Linked DNA regions of Homo sapiens. The protein of the gene in region 4 purifies or fractionates together with the protein of the main gene of each other region. This does not show direct contact. Each region holds a gene or a part of one and is shown on either strand. Other genes may lie near its edges.

Evidence for each region. The genes of interacting proteins can lie anywhere in the genome.
Region 1: the proteins of AGK (region 4) and ATP2C1 purify together in Homo sapiens (affinity purification with mass spectrometry; one large-scale study listed by BioGRID and IntAct). This does not show direct contact.
Region 2: the proteins of AGK (region 4) and SMPDL3B purify together in Homo sapiens (affinity purification with mass spectrometry, with the first as the bait; one large-scale study listed by BioGRID). This does not show direct contact.
Region 3: the proteins of AGK (region 4) and DHCR24 purify together in Homo sapiens (affinity purification with mass spectrometry, with the first as the bait; one large-scale study listed by BioGRID). This does not show direct contact.

The regions. Positions count from the first base shown.
Region 1 is NC_000003.12:130,998,584-131,002,083, reverse strand, and holds part of ATP2C1 (calcium-transporting ATPase type 2C member 1), read right to left. Parts: intron 2,567-3,500; coding exon 2,425-2,566; intron 865-2,424; coding exon 734-864; 3' UTR 1-733. UniProt on the Homo sapiens protein: ATP-driven pump that supplies the Golgi apparatus with Ca(2+) and Mn(2+) ions, both essential cofactors for processing and trafficking of newly synthesized proteins in the secretory pathway.
Region 2 is NC_000001.11:27,945,000-27,948,499, reverse strand, and holds part of SMPDL3B (acid sphingomyelinase-like phosphodiesterase 3b isoform 1 precursor), read right to left. Parts: intron 3,269-3,500; coding exon 3,055-3,268; intron 1-3,054. UniProt on the Homo sapiens protein: Lipid-modulating phosphodiesterase. Active on the surface of macrophages and dendritic cells and strongly influences macrophage lipid composition and membrane fluidity. Acts as a negative regulator of Toll-like receptor signaling.
Region 3 is NC_000001.11:54,863,196-54,866,695, reverse strand, and holds part of DHCR24 (delta(24)-sterol reductase precursor), read left to right. Parts: intron 1-1,249; coding exon 1,250-1,393; intron 1,394-3,500. UniProt on the Homo sapiens protein: Catalyzes the reduction of the delta-24 double bond of sterol intermediates during cholesterol biosynthesis.
Region 4 is NC_000007.14:141,557,910-141,561,409, forward strand, and holds part of AGK (acylglycerol kinase, mitochondrial isoform 1 precursor), read left to right. Parts: intron 1-3,500. UniProt on the Homo sapiens protein: Lipid kinase that can phosphorylate both monoacylglycerol and diacylglycerol to form lysophosphatidic acid (LPA) and phosphatidic acid (PA), respectively. Does not phosphorylate sphingosine. Phosphorylates ceramide.

The DNA.
Region 1 (3,500 bases), on a different chromosome or scaffold from region 4:
CTAGAACACCACTTGATAGCCCTGCATGAATTCTGCCAAACCAAAGACATACCTTTTTAAAATAAAAATAAAGCAACCATTTACACTTACTAAGAAAAACAAAAATTTACTTCAAATTGTAGTATAGGCTTTTCAATCACAAAAAGAAAGAAAAGAACAGTGATCTGACAGTGGTCACATCCTGTGCAAAAAACTTGATACAAAAATGATAGCACATGGTATCTGAGCTGCTTACATTACAAGAAAAAGGAAATACAGTAGCTGAAATATGGCACTCCTGGGAATCAACTTCTAAACCAAATAGAATGCCTTTGAAATGATTAAATTTATTTGTGTATTAGTAAGAAAGCCCCACCACCATAAATAGTACAATATTTAAAAATAAAAAAAAATATATCTATCTAAGATAGATAGTGTATTTGTACTGTTAGACTTCTTTAAGTGCAGAAGGTGGTTCAGGTTTTGCCTTTTTAATTAAATAACTGACCATATGCTTTATAAAGTTTCACTCAATCACAAAAGCCAATTTAAATCAAGGAATATGATATCAAAGTTGCATAATTTCATTTGGGACTGCCAGCAGGTTAAAGTCTTAAGTCTTTAACATTAATGTTCATTTTTAGTCAATGAATAGTTAAAAAGTTCTCAAATCTTCATATCCTCTTGAACTTGCCCTTCTAAATGATCCTCAGACTGCAATTCCTAGTTTGCAAATAAAATAATGCAATATGCATCATACTTCAAGAAAAGATGATGATGTCGAACTAACATGCTTCTGGATCTTTTCCCTGCTCCTTTCAACCTTCTTTATAATTTCTGCCACTATGCACACTGATGAGGTGAGACCCAAAAGAAACAACAGATCTGCAAGAGAAAATAAGTTGGGTTTTACATTTCTTTGAAACTTACAGTTGCAAAGCTTAATAGCTTACATTTTTCTAGCATTTTAACACAACTTTTTTTTTTTTTTTTTTTTTTTCTGAGATGAAGTCTTGCTCTGTCACCCAGGCTGGAATGCAGTGGCATGATCTCAGCTCACTGCAACCTCCGCCTCCTGGGTTCAAGCCATTTGCCTGCCTCAGCCTCCCAAGTGGCTGGGATTACAGGCATGTGCCATCATACCTGGCTAATGTTCGTATTTTTAGTAGAGAGGGGGTTTCACCATTTTGGACAGGCTGGTCTTGAACTCCTGACCTCAAGTGATCTGCCTGCCTCAGCCTCCCGAAGTATTGGGATTACTGGCGTGAGGCATGGCGCCTGGCCACCACAGCTTTCAAACACATTGTTTCACAACTATTCCATAAGGCAGGCACAATCACCCTCAGTTAAAAATAAGAAAAGAAAAAAAGATATTAAGTGACTTATCCAAAGTCACATAACTAGGAAAGGCAGCAGCCAGAATTAGAACCCAAGTCCTCTGACCACTTTCCCTGAAACCTTATGTGGCTAGCCTTTAACAGTATCACCAACAAAAGGAGTTTATTTCATAGATCACACAGCCCTTTAAAAAAGTACTGTATCAACAGTAGTAGACAATTTGAATGACAATGCCTATCTGAAGATTAAAAATTTGACATTAATATGTTCTATTTCAAAGCATAGAAGACTTGTCTTTACAATACTATCCACACTATCTCAATTCTTATTTACTGCTTGGAAAATTGCAGATGTTTCCTTAAAATGCCATTTTTTTAAAAAGAGGAAGAAATGTGAATATGGAATTAAAATACTGAAATTCAACTAGTTCAATTTTAAGGTAAATTTTAACTTACAAGAAAAAATACAGTGAAACTGTATAACTCCTTTTCATAAATACCCAAATTGAGAACTCAATAAAGGATAGCATTACTGTCAAATATATCATTCCTCACACCTACACAGGAAAACTAATTTTTAAATGCACTGTATTATACATTTAATAAATGGTAATGTAAGAAAAATGTGTAATTTCCAAATAGTCTTTATAAAACATTCTGCTATTTGGTCAGACTGACATTTTGTGAAATTAGAATGTACAAACAAGAAAGAATAATGAAATTATTAGTTTACTGAAAATTCTAACTTTAAAGAAGAGAGCAACTTGGTTTTCAGGGAGATTAAGTCTAGTTTTCTCTTCATACAAGATGGCATAGTACATAAAAAGTTATAAACTATACTCTAGAGCAGGTTTTGATTTGCTATATTTGAGAATCACGTATTATGATTTTTATAACAATTGATAACCTATAAAAGAGCAAAAACCAAAACCCTGGAGTTAGGAGAGTAATTCCCCTGAGCTTCCCCAAGTGAAAAAATAGACTCCTTTTTCAAATCAAGTGAGTTACTTATTTTGCTATTTTAAAAGAATTTTAAAATTAAAACAAACACATTAGAAAATATGATTTATCTAAAATACATAAATGATAAAGATAACGTTTTCTTTACCCAGTATGCTTAGGCTCTCAGTCTGAAAAACCTTCTGAAGCGGAGGAAAGTAAATAACTAGTAATTGTCCCATGATGGATCCAAGAACTGCATAGCAAAACATTCTATTACTGCAGAGTCCAATCTCAAACACAGACTTGGTCTGTTGGCAGAGCAGAGAGTTCATTTATTACTCCTTGGTCACAGAAATAACTTCTTTATTATATTCACTTCTAATTTTTAACAAGCAGTGTCACTTTATCACTGAATTGTGCAATGTCAATTCTATGAAATATCTTAAATTTTACTACTGTTTTGGAATAATTCAGATGGAATAAAAGTAAATATTAAAGTAGCTTTTATTTTATTTATCAAGAAAAGGCTTGCTTAAAAAGTGACACTATATAATTTAGACCATAGAAAGAAAAGAAACCTTTTAACATCCCAAACATCAAGAAACTTTATTTGTATTTTGCTAAATCATTTCTATACATTCACTAAGGTAGATAATCTAAAATCCTTTCTTGGAGAATGGACCTAATTGTGTGTGTACTGAAAAAGTAAAACCACTTTTCATAAAAAAATAAATATTACAGCTTCTTCAAAAATTGGTCAATTAGTGAGAATTCGCTGTACTCAGAAGTTCCAGCATGGCAAATGGTAATATAGTTAAGGATTCATAAAGTGCTTTAAAGCTGAAATGAATAGTCATGCCTCAAATGAAACTAGTTTTTAAGGACAATATGCTCTAAAAAAGTACCATAAAGCTCTAGCCCATTATTTTCTATCAAAACACTTAGACCAAGAAGCAGCAGTCACACCTTAAGATACAACAAGGGAAGAAAAGCAAAATTAGAATGTCCTAAGCTTTGACACAGTGACAGGAGTGATGGGAAAAAAAATAGGCACATAACTGCTCTTATACTCCTAGCAATACTGTCTTTTAAAATGAGACTAATAAAATCTCAACAGAAACTATGAGGTTTGTTCTATGCTCAAATAATGTTAACCACGATCTATCTTATAGCTATAGCCAGCTAAACGCAGATGACAACACCTGTGAATTATTAATACTTTTATGTTCTAGTCAGACATAA
Region 2 (3,500 bases), on a different chromosome or scaffold from region 4:
CAAAATTCTTGGGTCCACCTTAGAAATGCTTGGCAAGGGGAGGAGAATGGTGGCAGGTGGAGTGTAGGGATGGGGAGACGTCCGGACAGTCAAAATCCTGGGGCCTCTGCTGCCCAGGTATTCCCCCAGGGAAACTAATTAGCATAATAGTATTAATACTGCTGCTAGAAGCTCACACCGGCTGACTTTCTGCCAGGCACTTTCTGTGTGTTGTTGCCACAGCCACTAATTTTTTCCCCATTATAACACTGCAATGTAAATTCTATTATTAGTTTAGGCCCGTTTGACAGATAAAGAAACCAAGACACAGAAAAGTTAAGAATTTTGCCTATCCTAAATCAAGCACCAGAGACACGGGGGAAAAATTGTACCTAAGTGTACACCACTAGAAAGTGGTGGGGCCAAGATTTGAGCCCAGTCAGCCTGGCCCCAGAGTCTATGCTCACAGCCACTGCATCCTATAGTGTCTCTGATACCCACATTAGGGCAGCAAGAGGGGCTGTTTTGCCCTGAAAACTCCCTGGGGACAGGCCGGAAACCCAAAGACACAGGGACAAAATTTCATATTTTTAATTTCTAGGTTAGAGAATCTAATTCTGTCTGATAAAAAACACACCTAGGCCGGGGGCGGTGACTCACGCCTGTAATCCCAGCACTTGGGGAGGCCGAGGCAGGCGGATCATAAGGTCAGGAGTTCGAGACCAGCCAGGCCAATATGGTGAAACCCTGTCTCTACTAAAAATACAAAAATTAGCCAGGCGTGGTAGGGGGCACCAGTGAGCCGAGATCGCACCACTGCACTCCAGCCTGGGCGACAGAGCGAGACTCCATCTTAAAAAAAAAAAACAAAAAAACACCTAATTTCTTTTTTTTTTTTTTTTTGAGATGGAGTCTCGCTCTGTCACCCAGGCTGGAGTGCAGTGGCGCAATTTCGGCTCACTGCAACCTCCGTCTCCCAGGTTCAAGCGATTCTCCTGCCTCAGCCTCCTGAGTAGTAAAACATACCTAATTTCTAATGGCCATCCTCAAAGGGACTGCAGCTCTCTTAGAAGTCAAATTTTATTATAATTGAAGAATTGTAAAGGGTCCTAGAGATCTTCTCATCTGATGCTGTGTACCTCTTCAAGGTCTCAGAGATTTCCCAGGAAAAAAAGGTGCAACTGTGGCCGGGTGCAGTGGCTCACGCCTGCAATCCCAGCACTTTGGGAGGCTGAGGCGGGCAGATCACCTGAGGTCGGGAGTTTGAGACCACTCTCACCAACATGGAGAAACCTTGTCTCTAATAAAAATACAAAATTAGCCGGGCGTGGTGGCGCATGCCTGTAATCCCAGCTACTCGGGAGGCTGAGGCAGGAGAATCGCTTGAACCCAGGAGGCGGAGATTGTGGTGAGCCAAGATCACGCCATTGCACTCCAGCCTGGGCAAAAAGAGCGAAACTCCATCTCAAAAAAAAAAAAAAATGTGCATCTGTTAAAGGATCATGAATTTCCTGAGGGATCCCATCTGTCTGAATGCTACACATGCTCTCCCTTCTCGGAGAAATCAGAAGCTCCCCTCAAGGGAGCAGGCCCAAGGTCATGGACCAAATCTCACTCTCTTCTTAGATTGATTCCTGAGCCCAAGGAAGCCAGAGCTGTCCAGGCCCCTCCTGAGACAATGTCACATGTCTTCTTATGTGTCCAGCCTGGCAGGTTCATCTGAGGGTCCTTCCTGGTCACACCCACAAACCACATCACAGCTAGGGGCATCATGGGTTTCACCCTGCCTTATAGAAGTGTCCACTGAGGCTGGTAGAGGGAGCGCAAAGTCAGAATTCCTTCCAGCCTTCCTCGAGAGCTCCCCTGCTCCACCACCTCCTGCAGGATGTCCTTCCCCTAATCCTGCCAGATGGGATCATGTGCCCTGTGAAGTTCCCACATCCCCCCAGGTGACTCTCTCTCCTTGCTTGGATGTAAGGGTAGGGTCAATGGGTTTGTCTGCATTGCCCACAAGAACGTGAGCTCCTTGGAGCCAAGTGTGGGTGTCCATCATCTCAGATCCCTAGCATCTACCCCACAACTGAGCACGACTTGTTGCCCTGCCAAGTGAGGGAGCAAGCGAGGAGATGGGGGTATCTTTTTTTCTTTTTCTTTCTTTTTTTTTTTTGAGACAGAGTCTTGCTGTGTCACTCAGGCTGGGAGTGTAGTGGTGTGATCTTGGCTCACTGCAACCTCTACCTCCCAAATGCAAGCGATTCTCCTGCCTCAGCCTCCCGAGTAGCTGGAACCACAGGCGTGCACTACCACGCCAGGCTAATTTTTGTATTTTTAGTAGAGACGGGGTTTCACCATGTTGGCCAGGATGGTCTCAAACTCCTGACCTCAGGTGATCCACTGCCTCGGCCTCCCAAAGTGCTGGAATTACAAGCATGAGCCACTATACCCAGCCGGAATGGGGGAATCTTGAATGATAAGGAGGCAAGTTCCCAGGAAAGTTGAAGGAATTAGAGCAGCAACCTTGGACAGGAAGCAGAAACTGGGTCTCTGCGGCTGAGTGGGATCGGCCCTCAAGCTGTCACTCTGTAGAGCAGAGCTCTGACTGGTGAGAAAATCCAGGACCACTGGGCAGCCCAGGGGTGGCCAGCAGCTGGCCAGGACACTAGGACCCCAGGCTGGGCCACCTTCAGCCCTCATAACTTCTTCCCTCCCTGCACTTGGACCTCTCAGACTTAGAGTCCCTAAGCCCCAGGGGAAATGGCTCCAGTGTCCACCCATAGCTTAAAACCTGGACACTCTCCGGGTGCCCAGGCATGCCAGGACCACGTCCAAAAGCCTGATTGAGAGCTGCGTTCTGCCACAGCCAGGAGACATGGAGGTCGAGGACACAGACTGTGGAATCAGTTGGACTCAGGAATCCCCGGGCAAGTTACAAAATTCCTTTGAGCTTTAGGTTCCTCAGCCTCACGTGAGACTGATGTGAGGATTAAGGGAGATAATGTGGGCAAAGGGCCAGACTGGTATGTAGCACATAGCAGATGCCTGGCAAAGGGTAGCTGCCACCTCAACTGTACTCACCCAGTCCAGAGAATGAAGTCTGGCTCTGGCTCAATCTCCTTCATGGCATAGATGGAGGAGTTGATGAGGGCCCAGGGAGAATCACAGAGGTAGTCACCCCAGGGGCCTGCGTCGGGCACTGGCTGGGATCCAGCTGATGGGCACACCTGGAAGGGGTCTTTGGATACCTTGTAGTCAGGGTCAAGGTGCAGGTCAGCGATGTGCCAGAACTTCCCTGCAGGGGAAAAAACATCCTCCTTCAAAGCTGGTCTCTCTCTCAGCCTGGAAGCAAGGAAGTCCAGGGGAGCCCTGGGCTGGGGCAGGGGCGTTACACAGGCAAATGGAAGTCTTCTCTGAGCACCCCGGGTTCAGAGAAAAGGCCCACAGGCCTGGCTCTGCCCAGGGACACATTGAGCAGAGCACAGAACAGGCTCAGCTCCATCCCTGAGCGCTGACCTTTGGCAAGG
Region 3 (3,500 bases), on a different chromosome or scaffold from region 4:
CGGCAAAGGGTTGCCTGGCTGTAGGGTAGAGCAGGTCAACAAGGGAATGGGTGGGGACTGATACTTCAGCCACCTGTGGACCAGGCACCGTGCTTGGCACTTTCTACATCATCTCTTTTAGTCTTCCAGAAATGCTAAGTAACCTGCCTAGGCTCTGCTAAGTGTGTTGTAAATGGAAAAAGCAAATTGGCAAACAGTACGTGTAAGATGGTCCCATTTTTCAGGAGGCTGAGGCAGGAGAATGGCGTGAACCAGGGAGGTGGAGCTTGCAGTGAGCCAAGATCGTGCCACTGAACTCCAGCCTGGGCGACAGAGCGAGACTCTGTCTCAAAAAAAAAAAAAAGATGGTCCTATTTTTTAAAAACAGTGGGCATATGTATGTAATTTCTAATAGACAAATAACTCCCACAAAGTATGTATTTTTATTGTCATGTTACATGTGAAGAAACAGGCTCAGAGATGACCTGCCTGGGTGTGTCCCCAGCTGCCCACCCTAAAGCTTGTGCTTTTCCAGGATCCCCCCTGCCTCTCCCCGAGAGCATCTGCCAGAATTCATTTATGGATGAGGAAGCTGAGGCCAGGAGAAGCTCAGCCATCCCAAGGCACACAGCACATTGAGTCATGACCATTTAGGGCTGCAGGAGACATCAGCTCAATAGAAGATTTGGGTGTGGGAGCCCCCAGGGCCAGGGAGGTATGAGCCTTATTCATGTGAGCATCCTCCAGACGATGGTGGCTGCCTGGGGAGTGCTGTACCCGGAGGACTGTGGAGCTTGGTCCAGGGACAGCAGGGAAAGTGCCATGACCAGTTGGTGCCATGAGCCCTGGGTTGCACTGAGGGGCTGACCCATTCCCAGAGTTCGTGCTTCCCTGGCCTTGGGGAAGGTGGGAAGGGAGGGAGGGAGGGAATTCCCCTGCATGGGGCACTGCATCAGGGCAGTTAAATGTTTAACTCTGTTAAACACTTGCACCAGGCTAGGCGGGGTCGCTGAGTTCTCTAGACTGTCGGGGACTCACTGTTTGGCCCTGGGCACACACCACTTAACCTCTTTGAGCTCCTGCTCTCTCTGCTAGAGGATACCCGCTGTGCCTAACCTCACCAGCTTTCAAGAGTCTCAAAGGCAGTAATAGACATGAAAGAGCTTTGAAAAGGCCAGGAGTGCTGAACAGAAGCCGGGTGTCGCTGTTACACCCCGATGGTGCTGGGCGCTTGTCTGCAGGCTGATCACAATGCCCTCTGTCATTTCAGCTGAATAGCATTGGCAATTACTACAAGCCGTGGTTCTTTAAGCATGTGGAGAACTATCTGAAGACAAACCGAGAGGGCCTGGAGTACATTCCCTTGAGACACTACTACCACCGCCACACGCGCAGCATCTTCTGGGAGCTCCAGGTGAGGCTTAGGTTTCTGTAGCCCTGGCTCCTCCAGGCCAGCTGGGCAGGGAGCCCGGACAGTTAACACTGTAGCCATACTCTCTCCCTTCAGGGTAAAGAGTGGCTTTGTCCTAAGGAACTGCAATGCCTTCTTAAGCAGCAACACAGTCGTTTCCTTCTGAAGGAACCAACTACCTTCAGTTCAAGCAGCAGGCTCTTAGCAAGCATCTGCTTGGTGCTGGGGAGTAAGCCCCTGGGCCGGTACTTTGGGGAACACAGACCTGTTCCGCCCTTGAGGAAGGGTTAGCCTCTAGCCACGGTGAGCAGACAGATCCCTGCACTGTAAAGGGCCGCAGGAACATTAGTAGGAAGTGGCTAGTTCTGCCTAGGGCTCGAGGTAACAGCCAAGCCTGGCTGTGAAAGGTGAGTGAGAATTTGCTGTTGCATGTGTAGATGGGTGGGTGGATGAGGAGCAGTGACACTTTAAGTGGGGGAAGGTCAGGAAGAACCCCTCAGGAGATGACTTTGTGAGCAGGGACCTGAACATAGGGAAGGCAGACCAGGAACAACTCTGGGGAGGACTCTGGAACTCTGTTCACAGGCAGAGGGACAGCCAGAGCCCAGGGCTTGAGCTGGGCTAACAGGAAATTAAACATTATAAAATGGACAGTTCAGGGTAGTTTAGTACATTCACAGTGTTGTGCAACCACTACCTCTGTGTAGTTCCAAACATTTTCATCTCTGAAAAGGAAACCCTATACCCATTAAGCAGCCACTCCCTATTCTCTCCCCTTTCCCCAGCCTGTGGCAACCACCAATTCATCTTCTGTCTCTGCAGATTTACTTATTCTGGATATTTCACATATATGGAATCATTCAGTATGTGCCTTTTGTGACTGGCTTCTTTTACATAGCATAATGTTTTCATGTATCAATATTTCATTTCTTTTTATGGCGGGATAGTAGTTCATTATATGAGAGACCACATTTTGTTTTGTCACTCATCTGTTGATGGACATGTGGGTTGTTTCAACCTTTTGGCTACTGTGAACAGTGCTGCTACAAACCTTCATGTGCATGTATTTGTTTGAATACTTGTTTTCAGTTCTTTGGGATATAGAACTAGGAGTGGAATTGCTGGGTCATATGCTAATTCTGTGTCTAACTTTCTGAGCAACAACCAAACTCTTTTCCACTGAGGCTGTGCCATTTTTCATTCCCACCAGCAATGTATGAGCGCTCTATTTTTTCAACATTCTCACCAACACTTGTTATTTTCTGGTTTTTAAATTATTAGTATTATTATTATAGCCATTCTGGTGGGTTTATGGTATTGACTTGCATTTTCCTTGAAATTAATGATGCTGAGCATCTTTTTATATGCATGTTAACCGTTTTGTATATCTTCTTTGGTGAAAAGTCTATTTGAATCCTTTGCCACCTTTTAAAATTTGGTCATTTGTCTTTGTTGTTGAGATGTAAGAGTTCTTTGTGTATTCTGGATACTAGACCCTCATCAGATATATGATCTGCAAACATTTTCTCCAATTCTGTAGGTTTCTTTTCATTGTCTTGGTAACGTCCTTTGATGCACAGAAGTTTTTAATTTAGATGAATTCCAATTTATCTATTTTCCCTTTTGTTTGTGCTTTTAGTGCCATATATAAGAATTTATTGTCAAGTCCAAGCCCCTTTGTTTTCTTCAAAGACCTTTATAGTTGCAGCTCTAATCTTTAGGTTGTTGAGTGGGGTAGGAGTCCAGGCTCCATTCTTTTGCTTATAGCTATCCAGGTGTCCCAGCAAGGCTGCATGTGTTTGAAAAACAGCAAGAAGCCTTCGGAGCCAGCATGCCCACGCTGAGCTATGGTGAGGAATGAGGTCAAACAGGCACCAGAGGCTAGATCATATGGCTCCTTGTAGGTTAGGAAGGACTTTATATTTTATTCTAAGTATAATAGGAAGCCAATGAGGGCTTTGAACAGGAAAGTGGCATGGCCTGATTTTTGTTTTAAAAGAATAACTGTGACAGCTGGATAGAGTGGATGGGGACGGGAGTGGACAAGAGTGGAAGAGTAGAAGAAAGAAGATACTGTTGTCTGGGCAGCAGCAGAGGAGAAGTGTCAAAT
Region 4 (3,500 bases):
GTTAAGTATATTCACATTGTTGTTCAACAGATCTCTAGAACTTTTTCATCTTGCAAAACTGAAACTCTGTACCCATTGAACAACTGCCCATTCCCGCCCCAACCCAGCTGTCCTTGACAACCACTATTCTACTTTCTGTTTCTAGGAATTTGACCACTTTATACTTTGTGTCAGTGAGTCATATAGTATTTGTATTTTTGTGGTTGGCTTATTTCACTTATAATGTCTATAATGTTTATATTATCTTTACCTTTTCTTTTTTTTTTGAGACGGAGTCCTGCTCTGTCACCTAGGCTAGAGTGTAGTGGTGTGATCTTGGCTCACTGCAACCTCTGCCTCCGAGGTTCAAGTGATTCTCTTGCCTCAGCCTCCCAAGCAGCTGGGACTACAGGCGCGTGCACCATGCCTGGCTAATTTTTCCATTTTTAGTAGAGATGGTTTTTTTTTTTTTTAACCATGTTGGCCCGCTGGTCTCGAACTCCTGACCTCAGGTGATCTGCCCGCCTTGGCCTCTGAAAGTGCTGGGATTACAGGTGTGAGCCACTGCGCCTGGCCTATATTATCTCTAAATGTAAAGATATATTCTTTACGTTTAAAGAGGTATGGTCTTTACATCTGTCAATGGACATTTTGGTTGCTTTTACCTCTTGACTATTGTGAAACATGCTATAATTAACTTGAGTGTACAGATACCTCTTGGAGATCCTGTTTTTAATTATTTTGGATATATGCCCAGAAGTGGGGATTGCTAGATCATATGGTAGTCTATTTTTAATTTTTTGAAGAGCTTTCATACTGTTTTCCATTGTGGCTCATCATTTTACAATCCCACAAACGGTGTACAAGGTTTTCAGTTTCTCCACGCCCTCATCAACACTTGTTATTTTCTGTTTCTTTGATATGGGCTATCCTTATGAGTGTGAGGTGATATGTCATTGTGGTTTTGGTTTGCATTTTTCTAATGATTAAGGAAGTCAAGCATCTTTTCACATGCATGTTGGCCATTTAAAAATCTTTGGAGAAATGTCTGTTCAAGTCCTTTTTCCATTTTTAATTGAGTTTTGTTGTTGTTGGCCTGTAGGAGTTCTTTATGGATTCCAGATATTAATCCCTTGTGAGATATAGAATTTTCAATATATTGTCTCCTATTCTGTAGCTGGCCTTTTTACACTATTGATCATGTCCTTTGATATATATTGTTTTTAGTTTCGTTAAGGCCCATTTGTCTACTTTTGCTTTTGTTTGCCTCTGCTTTTGGTGTTATATTCAAGAAATCATTGCTAAATCCAGTGTCATGAAGCTTTTCCCTATGTTTTCTTCTAGGAGTTTTATATTGGGTCTTACATTTAGGTCTTTAACAGATTTTGAGTTAATTTTTTTTATATGGTATAAGATAGGGGTTCAGCTTCATTATTTTCCATATGGATATCTAGTTTTTCCATTACCATTTGTTGAAGAGACTGTCATTTCCCCATTGCGTGGTCTTGGCATCCCTATTGAAGATCATTTGACCATATAGATGAGGATTTATTTCTGGGCTTTCTGTTGTTCATTAGTCTATATATCTGTATTTATGCCAATACCACACTGTTTTGATTACTATTGCTTTGTAATATATTTTAAATTTAGTACATATAAGACTTCCATCCTTGTTCTTTTTCAAGATTGTTTTGGATGTTTGGGGATTTCTTGAGATTCCATATGAATTTTGGGATGTTTTTTCTATTTTTGCAAAAAATGCCATTGGGATTGCATTGAATCTGTACATTGTTTTGTAGAATAGACATTTGAACAATATTAAGTCTTCTAATTTATGAACACGGGATGTCTTTTTATTGTACTCTTTAATTTCTTTCAGCAGTGTTTTGTTTTTAGCGTATAAGTCTTTTACCTACTTGCTTAAGTTTATTCCTAAGTATTTTATTCTTTTGATGCAATTGTTAATGGGATTGTGTTCTTAATTTCCTTTTCAGATTGTTCATTCTTAGGATATAGAAATATAACTGATTTTTGTGTGTTGTGTATCCTACAACTTTGCTGAATTTATTAGTTCTAACAGCTTTTTTTTTTGGTGTAGAATCTTTAGGGTTTCTACATATAAGATATGTCATCTGTGAATAGAGATAATTTTACTTCTTCCTTTCCAGTTTGGATGCCTTTATTTCTTTTTCTTGCCTCATTGCTCTGGCTAGAACTTCCTGTGCTATGTTGAGTAGAAGTGATGAGTGGACATCTTTGTCTTATTCCTGATCTTAGAAGAAAAACTTCCAGTATTTCAAAATTGGGTATGATGTTAGCTGTGGGCTCATCATAAATGACCTTTATTATGCTGTGATACTTTTCCTTTTGTTGCCCTCCCTCCGTTTTTTTTTTTGCCTATATATCCCCAACCTTTTCACAGAACAGTGCTCACATTCTTTATACCAAACTTGTTTTTACCCTGAGAAGATCTTACCCTGTAGTCTTCTTGAGTGGAAGCTGCCTTGTCCTTTCTTTCTTCTTCTTCTTTTTTTTTTCCCCCATCAGGTCATTTTATTATTATGGTTTTTACAAATTTTGTTTTATTTTAATAGTTTTTGGGGAACAGGTGGTGGTTTGTGGTTACATAGATAAGTTCTTTAGTGGTGATTTCTGAGATATTGGTGCACCCGTTACCCGAGCAGCGTACACTGTACCCAGTGTGTAGTCTTTTATTCCTCACCCCACTCCCACCTTTCCCCCTGAGTCCCCAAAGTCCCTTATATCATTCTCATGCCTTTGTGCCCTCATAGCTTAGCTCTCACTTATAAATGAGAATATATGATATTTGGCTTTCCATTCCTGAGTTACTTCGCTTAGAGTAATGGTCTCCAACTCCATCCAGGTTGCTGCAAGTGCCATTCTTTCTTTTTTTTTTTTTTTTTTTGAGCCGGAGTCTCGCTCTGTCGCCCAGGCTGGAGTGCAGTGGCACGATCTCGGCTCACTGCAAGCTCCGCCTCCCGGCTTCATGCCATTCTGCCTCAGCCTCCCAAGTAGCTGGGACTACAGGTGCCTGCCACCGCACCCAGCTAATTTTTTGTATTTTTAGTAGAGACGGGGTTTCATCGTGTTAGCCAGGATGGTCTCGATCTCCTGACCTCGTGATCCGCCCGCCTCGGCCTCCCAACATGCTGGGATTACAGGCGTGAGCCACCGCGCCCGGCCCATTATTTCAGTTTATTTTATGGCTGAGTAGTATTCCATGGTGTATATATACCACATTTTCTTTAGCCACTTGTTGGTTGATGGGCATTTAGGTTGGTTCCATATTTCTGCAATTGCAAATTTTGCTGCTATAAACATGCATATGCAAGTGTCTTTTTCATATAATGACTTATTTTCCTTTGGGTAGATACCCAGTAGTGGGATTGCTGGATTTAATGGTAGTTCCGCTTTTAGTTATTTAAGGAATCTCCATACTGTTTTCCATAGTGGTTGTATTAATTTACATTCCCACCAGCAGCGTAAGTGTTCCCTTTTCA